2 separate regions of the Homo sapiens genome follow, and region 1 is linked to region 2. The links come from fine-mapping of genetic effects on gene expression. A gene starts in region 2. The other region holds a variant in brackets. All regions are shown on one strand. Distances are from middle to middle.

Region 1 (5,385 bases), 500 kb before region 2:
AATTCTTTTCTTTAAGAATGTTGAATATTTGCCCCCACTCTCTTCTGGCTTGTAGGGTTTCTGCCGAGAGATCCGCTGTTAGTCTGATGGGCTTCCCTTTGAGGGTAACCCAACCTTTCTCTCTGGCTACCCTTAACATTTTTTCCTTCATTTCAACTTTGGTGAATCTGACAATTATATGTCTTGGAGTTGCTCTTCTCGAGGAGTATCTTTGTGGCGTTCTCTGTATTTCCTGAATCTGAACGTTGGCCTGCCTTGCTAGATTGGGGAAGTTCTCCTGGATAATATCCTGCAGAGTGTTTTCCAACTTGGTTCCATTCTCCCCATCACTTTCAGTTACACCAATCAGATGTAGATTTGGTCTTTTCACATAGTCCCATATTTCTTGGAGGCTTTGCTTATTTCTTTTTATTCTTTTTTCTCTAAACTTCCCTTCTCGCTTCATTTCATTCATTTCATCTTCCATTGCTGATACCCTTACTTCCAGTTGATCGCATTGGCTCCTGAGGCTTCTGCATTCTTCACGTAGTTCTCGAGCCTTGGTTTTCAGCTCCATCAGCTCCTTTAAGCACTTCTCTGTATTGGTTATTCTAGTTATACATTCTTCTAAATTTTTTTCAAAGTTTTCAACTTCTTTGCCTTTGGTTTGAATGTCCTCCCGTAGCTCAGAGTAATTTGATCATCTGAAGCCATCTTCTCTCAGCTCGTCAAAGTCATTCTCCATCCAGCTTTGTTCCGTTGCTGGTGAGGAACTGCGTTCCTTTGGAGGAGGAGAGGCGCTCTGCTTTTTAGAGTTTCCAGTTTTTCTGTTCTGTTTTTTCGCCATCTTTGTGGTTTTATCTACTTTTGGTCTTTGATGATGGTGATGTACTGATGGGTTTTTGGTGTGGATGTCCTTTCTGTTTGTTAGTTTTCCTTCTAACAGAGAGGACTCTCAGCTGCAGGTCTGTTGGAGTACCCTGCCGTGCGAGGTGTCAGTGTGCACCTGCTGGGGGGTGCCTCCCAGTTAGGCTGCTTGGGGGTCAGGGGTCAGGGACCCACTTGAGGAGGCAGTCTGCCCGTTCTCAGATCTCCAGCTGCGTGCTGGGAGAACCACTGCTCTCTTTAAAGCTGTCAGACAGGGACATTTAAGTCTGCAGAGGTTACTGCTGTCTTTTTGTTTGGCTGTGCCCTGCCCCCAGAGGTGGAGCCTACAGAGGCAGGCAGGCCTCCTTGAGTTGTGGTGGGCTCCACCCAGTTCGAGCTTCCCCGCTGCTTTGTTTACCTAATCAAGCCTGGGCAATGGCGGGCGCCCCTCCCCCAGCCTCGCTGCCGCCTTGCAGTTTGATCTCAGACTGCTGTGCTAGCAATCAGCGAGACTCCGTGGGCGTAGGACCCTCCGAGCCAGGTGCGGGATATAATCTCGTGGTGCGACGCTTTTTAAGCCCTTCAGAAAAGCGCAGTGTTCGGGTGGGAGTGACCCGATTTTCCAGGTGCCGCCCGTCACCCCTTTCTTTGACTCAGAAAGGGAACTCCCTGACCCCTTGCGCTTCCCAAGTGAGGCAATGCCTCGCCCTGCTTCGGCTCGCGCACGGTGCGCGCACCCGCTGACCTGCACCCACTGTCTGGCACTCCTTAGTGAGATGAACCCGGTACCTCAGATGGAAATGCAGAAATCACCCGTCTTCTGCGTCGCTCACGCTGGGAGCTGTAGACCGGAGCTGTTCCTATTCGGCCATCTTGGCTCCTCCTGTAACAATTTCTTGAGGTAGGTAGTGCTAGGACTAGCTCCATTTTTGTAGATGGGAAAACTAAGGCTGAGAAAGCATAGGTTATTTGTTTAGGGTCTTGAAGAAATAAAATGGCTGAGCTGAAGTTTGAAATCAGATCCTTGTGGCCCCAAATTCCCTTGGGGCCCAGGAATAAAATGATACCACTATGATTGAAAGCCAACAAACCTATACCAATGATGTATTGATAAGGTGCTGTTTCGCTGAGAAAAAACTTAGTGACCAGTGCAATCAAAAACACACAGTAAAGGGACAAGACTGGTCCTCTTGTGGGTAAGAAATAGGATTCTTGACATGTCTACACTGTTTGTGAAAGTGAGTATATTTGTGATTTTGTTCCAGAAATTACTAGGGTTTTTTTTTTTTTAACTGATAGAACAGAGAAGGTTCTGAATAAATGCTAGCAACTGTTTTTGGGGAGCAAAGTACAGGTAGTGTGATGTGGTGACCTTGGTTGTAGTTATTACCAGTGGAGGGTGTCCAGGTTCTTGGCATCTTGGACAAAGAATTGGACAAAACACACAAAGCAAGGAAAGAATAAAGGAACCAAAGCAGAGATTTATTGAAAATGAAAGCACGCTCCACAGGGTGGGAGCGGGCCAAGCACAGGGGCTCAAGACCCCTGTTACAGAATTTTCTGGGGTTTAAATATGCACTAGAGGTTTCCATTGGTTACTTGGTTACACCCTATGTAGATGAAGAGGAAGAAGCAAAGTTACAAAGAAGTTACAAAGTCATTTACTCAGTGTATGCCCTGTGTAAATGGAGAGGGTATTTCCTGTCATAGCTGAAGTGTTTCCATTTGATTTAGTTCTAGGAAGTCAGCATGAATCGGCTTTATGTTCCCTGCCTCCAGACCCTATTCTCCTGCCTCACAGGGAGTGACCTCACAGAAAGGCATTTTTTTTTTTTAATTGGAAGTTTCTTTCAAACTCTGCCTGCTTTTAGATGGCTCCTCTTAGAACTATGCATCTCTCCTGATACTTGGATGCTTTTCCTCTGACTGGTGAGACCTCCATCTCTGATCCCATCTGCAGTCATTTGGGTGC[A/G]GTTCAACTCACAGGATTAGAAAAATCTGTGGCCGGACCAGTGAGATCTGGCCTGGAGTGCTGGTCAGTGACTTCTGTGACTGACCATCCCCTTGGGACGGACAGACCCTGGGTCTCTTCACCCTCCCCTCTCTTTTCCTGGAGAAGCCAGCTCTTTCAGGTTGGGCTGCTTCCTAGAATTTCTTGGTTTACTTAGTTCCAAGTGAGGTGGGAGGTGGAAAAGGGGGCAGCTTCCAAGTTCTCCTGGGGAGAGCAAACTCAGGGCCATATCATCATTTCACCACAGACAACCACTCACGGAATTTTTCCTGATGTCTGTGTGGTTCTCAAGTTTCCCAACCTGTTCACCCTGAACACTTGGAGTTGGCTTCTGAGCTCAGAGAAAATACTCACTGTTGCCAGGCCACCAGTTTAGCCTTGGGGAGTGATGATTAAATAAATAAGGGGACCCCTCCCCCAATCTTGTTAGTTTACTTCACAGATAGGACTTTCCACTAATGCTGCCCAGAAAGCCCACAGAAAGGACTGTGGGCAGTGGCTGCTGTGGCTGTGCATGGCAGCTGGGGACTCCTTATCCTGACCCATTTAAGTCACACTATGATTGATGATCAGAATGGAAGAAAAACAACTGCAGATGGATAGTCAGTGGGGCAACCAAAAACCAACACAGCCTATTCCTGGTGTCTGCCCTTGCCTGACGTTGAGGGGGCACTTGAAGTAGTACAGTGATTAAAAGCATGGGTTATGGAGTCAGAAAAATCTGGGTTCAAACCCCAAGAGCAGCACTTAATGATTGGGAGACTTTGAGTAGCTTTGTATCATTCTTCTGAGCCTTAGATCCTTGAGGGTGGTGGGGATAATAATACCTTCCTCTTAGTGTTGTTCTGAGGATTAAATGAGATAATACAGGGGCAAGTACTTACAGCAGAGCCTGGCAAATAAGCAGTGCTCCATCATTTGCAGCTCCATCACAGCTATTTGTTGGCTGTGATGATTTTGCGATTATGTGAAATACTCAGCACAGTATCTGGCACAGAGGAAATAATAAATGGTAGCTGTTTCATAGGATTATGGAATGTCAGGGTTGGAAGGAATCTTGTCGAAGCCAAATTACTTTTATCTTCTCCTTTTACAGATGAAGATCCTGAATACCAAAGAGGGCCGCTGACAGGTCTAGGAGTACACTTCTAGCACCTAGCAGAGAGAGGCTTCACTACATCATGCTTCCTGACATCTCTCCCTTTGAAGAGCAGTCAGACTCCTGCTTTGCTCTTCAGACTTAATTTGGGGGTTTAACAGGTGAGGTTGCTGGGGGAACTCTTTTACAACATCTCTCTGAAAGAATCCGGGCTGCCAGTTTCATTTGGTTTGGGTGTCAGTAGCATGATGGAAAGACAAAAAAACACAACTTGACATCTGCAGAAATGGGTTCAAATTTTACCTGCAACTCACCAATTCTGTGGCCTTGGTTCAGCAATTAAACTCCCTAAAATTCAGTTTTTTCTTTGTAAAATGGGGTTATGAACAGTACCTACTTCAAAATGTGTTTGTGAAGATTAAAAAAGTTAACATAAAGAGTTTAGAAGAGTGTCTGGCATATTGTGCTCAATAAGTGTTTATTTATTTATTGCTGAATAAACCAGTAATTTAATTAGTATTAATAATTAGTTATTACTAATTAAACTAGTATAATGTAGTAATAAATTATTACTAAAGATCAGGTTGCAAAGACTTAGTGCTTAGGAACTCATTTCCTGCCTCCAGCCAATTTTGTGCCTCAGTGACAGTGTTGGTGGCCTTGGTCACAAGACAAGGGGGAGGCAGAGCTGCCTGCAGGTAGAGGGTTAACACAGGAGCTACCAGAATCCACGGGACAGCAGGGGATTGGTTTGGAATCCTGGTGTGGATTTGGGGTACAGATCCGGAAGCCTGGACTTTCTCTGTGGCTGATGGCCTTGAGAGACACATGTTACATCATTCTTGTTATTTATTTTTTTGTCACTGGAGCAAAGCAGAGGCTTTTCTTGGTTCAATCAGGAGTCATGAGCAAGGACAAGTAGAGAAGCTGAGCAGCTGTCGGGAGAATTCAGGCTGGAGTGGGCTCAGTGCCCAGGCCTTGCAGCCTGAGCTAGGGAGGAACACGTTGAAATGTGACATCTGCTGCCCAAGCTCCCCCTGACGCCCACCCCCTTCCTTGTCCAGCTGCTCAGGAGAAGGGAGGAAGCTAGCATTTTCCCATTGCCATTGTGTACCTGACAAGTTCATTAATCTTAGCTTATCTTATCCTCATGACCTCTCAAGCTGGTTATCATTTCTTTTTTATGGAAAAGGAAAAGGAAGAGGAAGAGGAGATTCAGAAGTGCCCAAGGGCACACATGGGGGCAGAGCCAGCATGCAAGCCCAGAGTCTTGGACTCTAAAACCCATGTTCCTTTCACGGCACTTGATAGTTCTTGTGGACCCAGCCAAGATATCACTGGCAGCATCTGGTTTATCATGAATCTGTGCAGTGTATGGCCAGAGGAGACAGAAATAAACCTAGAGGCAGGTGGCTCCTGGCATTAATGG
Region 2 (5,385 bases):
GACCAAGGCTTGTTCATGTGCATTTTCTTCTCTTTGATCCCAGGCCAAAATAACCATGGTGTGCAGAGTTCACTCTTAGCAACATTGCAACAATGGTGTTTTTTGTTTTGTTTTGTTTTGTTTTGTTTTGTTTTGTTTTGTTTTTAATGCCCCATTTCTTCCAGTTCTTTACCTTTTTCTCTTTTGGTAGCATTTGATATCATCAAACTCTTTCTTTCCCATTACAACTTGTTGCATGCAAATTGCTGAACTATTTTACCTTGCGGAGACTACTAATGTTAGCAATTACAAATTTAACTTGTTAAGCATGTGAGTAATTGAGTAGCAGGACCTTGTTAAGGCCATGTATGAGTAACAGGTGATGGTGTTTATATTCTGACAGGGTCTCAAGCCTTACACTAAATGAGTCAAATACAAATGGCAGTATTCTGTGCACATGAGAGAGGGTAGAGGCGCTACAGGGATTTCTTCAGGTCGAAGAAGCATATTTTCCCTCCTTCTCGCTATATTAACATTTCTGATATAGAAATGTGCCTTCTAATTAATGAGGTCATTGAATGTACTGGGGTTTTTTTTTTTTCACCTGAAAAGTTATGAATTGCTGCTGTGCTTTACAATCTGCATGAACTTTGCATGGAGTGAGTCTTTATGGAATTAAGAAGAGCGTTTGAGGACAACGAATGCTACCAAAGGGAGAAAAGGGTAAATATGTAGAAAATAACTGAAAATTAAATTACTGAATTGATGCTGTGCCTTATAATCAACAAAATGTTGAAAGCAAGGAATACTTTCCTAAGAGGCATAAAGGTTTCTTCATATCCCAGGTATTAACCAATCTGCTCCCTACCACTTCAAAATTCAAGACTAATTGGAGTCATGCAGATAATACTGTTACTACACAAAGTTTAATTAAAACCATCAGTACTCATTAACTCTTTTGTTATAGGTTTCTAGTATGTACCTTTAGAAAGTTATTGATGATAATGTTTTGAACCATTCTTAACCTGACTTATACAAGGGGATTACATGTTTTATAGATTGAATATTAACCATTAGGTAGTGTAAATATTAAACTATAAAGGAGTCAAGTTTCTGAAAGCTAAAAAAGTTCTGATTTTCTGCTGAGATCACAACAAAAACCTCATATATAATTGGAATACTTCATGATACAAATAATTAAAAGCCCAGGTTAAGGTAAATATATTAAAGACCAAGATTTGCAGTAACATTTATCATATCAAATCTCCAAATCTAGTGGAGGAATTTAAACAGAGGACACAGACAGCTCTTGGGAGAGTCTTCATATTTTTATTGGTAACTAAAAGCATACTTTAGCTATCTAATTAAACCTTTCTTTGGTCTAATTCAAATTCATGAAGCAAAGATTTATTCAGTTATCCAGATGTGAAAAGCAAAATTAGAGCGTTTTTTGTTTTATTGTTTGGCTGGAAATGTTTCTGTCTTTGGGCATTATGGATAATTTTAGTTTTCTCCTTTCTAAAAATTATTTTTTTTATTTTCTACAATGGCTATAATGTATTGGGTATATGGACTAGAGCTTTGCTTCTGTCTTCAAGGAAATGTCATTTGAACAGCTGACAGACTCCTGTAGCCGGTTACATAGAGATTCCCTAAAATAGGCAAGATGATGGCTGAGTACAAAATGAGTACTAGGGAGGCTACGTTCTACAGGAGTTGACGTGGAGAGGCAGAAAAGCTTCACAGAGTAGAGAAAACTCATACTAGATCTTGTAGAATACACAAGCTTTGTAGAGGTGGGGATGGAGAAGGCCACTGAAGAAGGAGGAGAAGCATGAACAAAATTAGAAATTGCACTAGAGGTACTTTGGAACAATTGACAGAGTCTAAAGAGAGCAGAAACAGGAATTTATAACTGGATTGTTACCTTCCTTCTCTAATTTGTCCTGGTCCTAATTCTAACTTAGCCTGTGGGTACAGTGATAGTAACCTGGTGAAAATAAGAGAAAGACAAGATAAAGTTGAAGGCTATAAATAATTTATTAATTAATGGCAAATTGATTTTTCTAGGTCCTAGAATAAAGAAAGAAAAGCTATGATGTTCCAGAGTGCTCTGCTGTAAGCACAGATAATAGCCAATGGGGTACATATTATTACCTTTCATTTTACAGATCAAGACAAAGAGAGTCAGGAAGTTTAAGACTTAAGTCTTTAAAGACCTTGTAAGGTCTTATTATCCCTGTGTTCCAGGTGAAGTTCAGAAATGTTAAATGATTTATGAAATGTTTCATGGCTTTCTCGTGGTTGAGCCAGGACTCGAGCAAAGGTCTCTGAATTCCTAGTCCTTTGCTTCTTTCTCTCCACATCCACTGCCTCAGACAATTGCAGGCACACAGCCTTCACTCTCCCTTCTTCAAGAGGAAGACACTGCTGAGGATTGTGTTTGCATTTTACAGATTCCATCTCACGAATTAAAAATGCTGAGGTGGTAAATTGTTATCAATTCTATGTTTCCCAGAAATGTTTAACCTTAAGTTAAAAAAAATCTAAGAGATAAAACAGCATGTTATCTGGCCAGTCCATTCCACCCCCAGTGGTTATTAATTTCAGAACACATCTGAATTCCTTCTCTGTGGCATATGCTTTAGGAGAGGAGCAGACAGCTCTTAGCTAGGGTCAGATTTCAAATTCTCATCTCTTGGTGCCAATACCACCACCAGATTCTTCTTTGAAGTCAACTTTTGAGATCTTCACTAAGTACACGTTGGTGTCTGAAGATTCACACGAGTGCCTCTGGTAATCATTTTCTTCAGGGAATCACAGTCTCTCCTCTCAGCAAAGCATCCACTGTACTGAACTTTGCTTTTGGAAACATCTTCTTCCTGAGACCTCGTTGAAAGAAACTCTCTGGTGTCATACTTTCCAATATGGAGGTGAAGAACTTTGCAGTTTGGGATTATGTTGTATTTGCAGCCCTCTTTTTCATTTCCTCTGGAATTGGGGTGTTCTTTGCCATTAAGGAGAGAAAAAAGGCAACTTCCCGAGAGTTCCTGGTTGGGGGAAGGCAAATGAGCTTTGGCCCTGTCGGCTTGTCTCTGACAGCCAGCTTCATGTCAGCTGTCACGGTCCTGGGGACCCCTTCTGAAGTCTACCGCTTTGGGGCATCCTTCCTAGTCTTCTTCATTGCTTACCTATTTGTCATCCTCTTAACATCAGAGCTCTTTCTCCCTGTGTTCTACAGATCTGGTATCACCAGCACTTATGAGGTAAGATGATTTCTCCATTCTTCTCTAATTTTTTTTTCTCATCCTCTTGATGATAGCACCTGGTAGTTGAAGAACACTCACTGATTTTCAGGATAATTACACATTATGAGAAAGACATTAAAATGTTTTTGTAAAAAGCCTAAGCTTTGGAGACAGACATATCTATTTTCCCATCTGTAGAAGGAAAATAATGATGACAATCCCACAGGGCTATTTTAATGATCAAATGAGAACCTCTATGTGAGCACTTAATGTATGGCCTCATTTGTAGGAGGTTTGCAATAAAGAGGGCTGATGTTATTTTTTATTATTGTGAACGTCATCATTCTGAAAAGCAAACAGAACATTTCTCATGAGTACGGCAATTTTCCAGCTAAGAAAACTGAGATACAGATAAATGACTTAGTTAAGATTTTTGAATAGTAAAGTGACCTGAGAACCTAATTTTTTCTGTATCTCTACTTAGTGGCCTTTCCGTCAGAGAGTAGAGGGCATTTTAATACAAATTATAATAAGACTAATTTTTAATGAGGAAATGGAAACATTTTTGAAAAGTACAAAACATTTTAACGAAAGGAATTGCTAAATAATACAAATATGGGAATTATTTAATGTGAGGGAAATGAGGCAGTGGTGTTTTGGCTTTACAATGATTCTCAATGAAGACATCATGTTCAAAATTGAATTTGCATGCTCTATATAGAAATGTGATCAAACATAAGTTTCTATTAATAAGGTATTTATTTTCATTATCCAATATCATTCCTAAAGTCACTGCAGGAGACTGAAAAGAGACCTATTTTTTTTTAAATATGTAAGCTATATGAGTATAAAACATTATTCTAGCCTTCAAAAGTCACTCAGGCAAATGAACACTTTTTAGGAAGTCTTAAAAAGTGTTATTGATTCCATAGTTTTATGTAATGTAATTTTTATGACTATTCACTCAGTAAATACTCATTAAGCATCTACTCTTAAGATACTTAAAAAGGCACTCTTCTTTTTTTCCATGTATTTATTTACTTATTTATTTATTTATTTATTTATTTATGAGATGGGGCTTTTGCTATGTTTCCCAGGCCGTTCTCAAACTCCTGGGCTCAAGTGATTCTCCTGAATCAACCTCCCAAGTAGCTGGGACTACAGAAGTTTGCCACCACACCCAGCTTGTTCTAGGCATTCTCGTAGCCCTAGGCATAAAGCATTGCACCAAGTTCCTGCTGTCATGGAGCTTACTTCATAGCAGAGAAGGGCAGTCAATAAACATATACTGTGTAAGAAAATCATAATACAAATATATATGGTATTTAACTATGTGCTAAGTACTTCTCTAAGTTCCTTATGTGTGTTAAGTCTTTTGGCCTTAAAACAATCTTTTTTAGACAGGTACTGTCACCTCCTTTTAACAGACTAGAAAACTGAGGCATATAGAATTAAGTAACTTGCTAAGTGACATAAAGCTAGCAAGTAACAGTTTTTCAAACCAGGCAGTCTAACTTTAGATATCATATGCTAAATAACTATGCTGTCCTGTCCTACAAAAACAAATGGAGAAAAAGTAAAGTAAATAGGATGAGATAGAGAGGAGGAATGCTGGTATGAGTAGAGAATGTCCATATTCATAGAGGGTGATCATATGAAACTTCAAGTAAAATAAGACGTCTAAATGGAGACTGGAAGAAAGCAAATAATTGCACCAGACAAGGGAAGTGCATCTCAGGCTGAAGTAGTCACAGATGCAAAGGCCCTAGAAAAGGAGTGTGACTGGCATGTTGAAGGACAGCAAAGAAATCAGTGTGCTTGGAGAGGAGAGAGCAAAGGGGACAATGGTAAAAGATAAGATCAAAGAGATGGGAGTGCCCAGTTATATACAGCAGGGGTCTCAGTGGAGCTAGTGCCACACAGAGGGAGCACTTGGGATATTTGTAGGATATTTGGTTGTCACAATGATTAGGAGTCACTACTGATGTTTAGGGAGTTGAGGGCAGAGACATCAGATGTCTTTCAGTGTGTAAAGGCACATATACAATGAGTAATTTCACTCTGCACTGCATGATATTTTAATGCCGTAATGCTCAAAAACTACTGCACATATTAGTATTACCTTAGTGCACAGTAACTTTACAATAAAAAGTTATAC

Direction of the effects. Positions count from the first base shown, and alleles are read on the strand shown. Sizes are in standard deviations (SD) of each study's normalised expression.
In carriers of allele G in region 1, the expression in spleen of the gene that starts at base 2,561 in region 2 tends to be higher than with A alone (moderate effect, 0.50 SD a copy in GTEx).

What was found. PIP is the estimated chance that this variant, and not a neighbour inherited with it, causes the effect. A credible set is the group of variants that fine-mapping cannot tell apart.
Region 1: its variant is the best candidate, but not a certain one, in a credible set for the expression of SLC5A12 in spleen (GTEx, PIP 0.53).

Annotation. Positions count from the first base shown.
Region 1 is chr11:27,216,049-27,221,433 of GRCh38, reverse strand. BBOX1-AS1 (BBOX1 antisense RNA 1) reads left to right here and starts at 2,666. Exons shown (of 4, transcript NR_125768.1): 1 at 2,666-2,775; 2 at 3,954-4,117. It overlaps LOC105376600 (a long non-coding RNA gene), which reads right to left and starts at 1,689. Exons shown (of 4, transcript XR_931141.3): 1 at 1,636-1,689. RefSeq lists an enhancer at 5,091-5,385. The variant A/G (reference allele first, on the strand shown) is at 2,819.
Region 2 is chr11:26,719,236-26,724,620 of GRCh38, reverse strand. It overlaps SLC5A12 (solute carrier family 5 member 12), which reads left to right and starts at 2,561. Exons shown (of 15, transcript NM_178498.4): 1 at 2,561-3,245. The coding sequence starts at 2,907.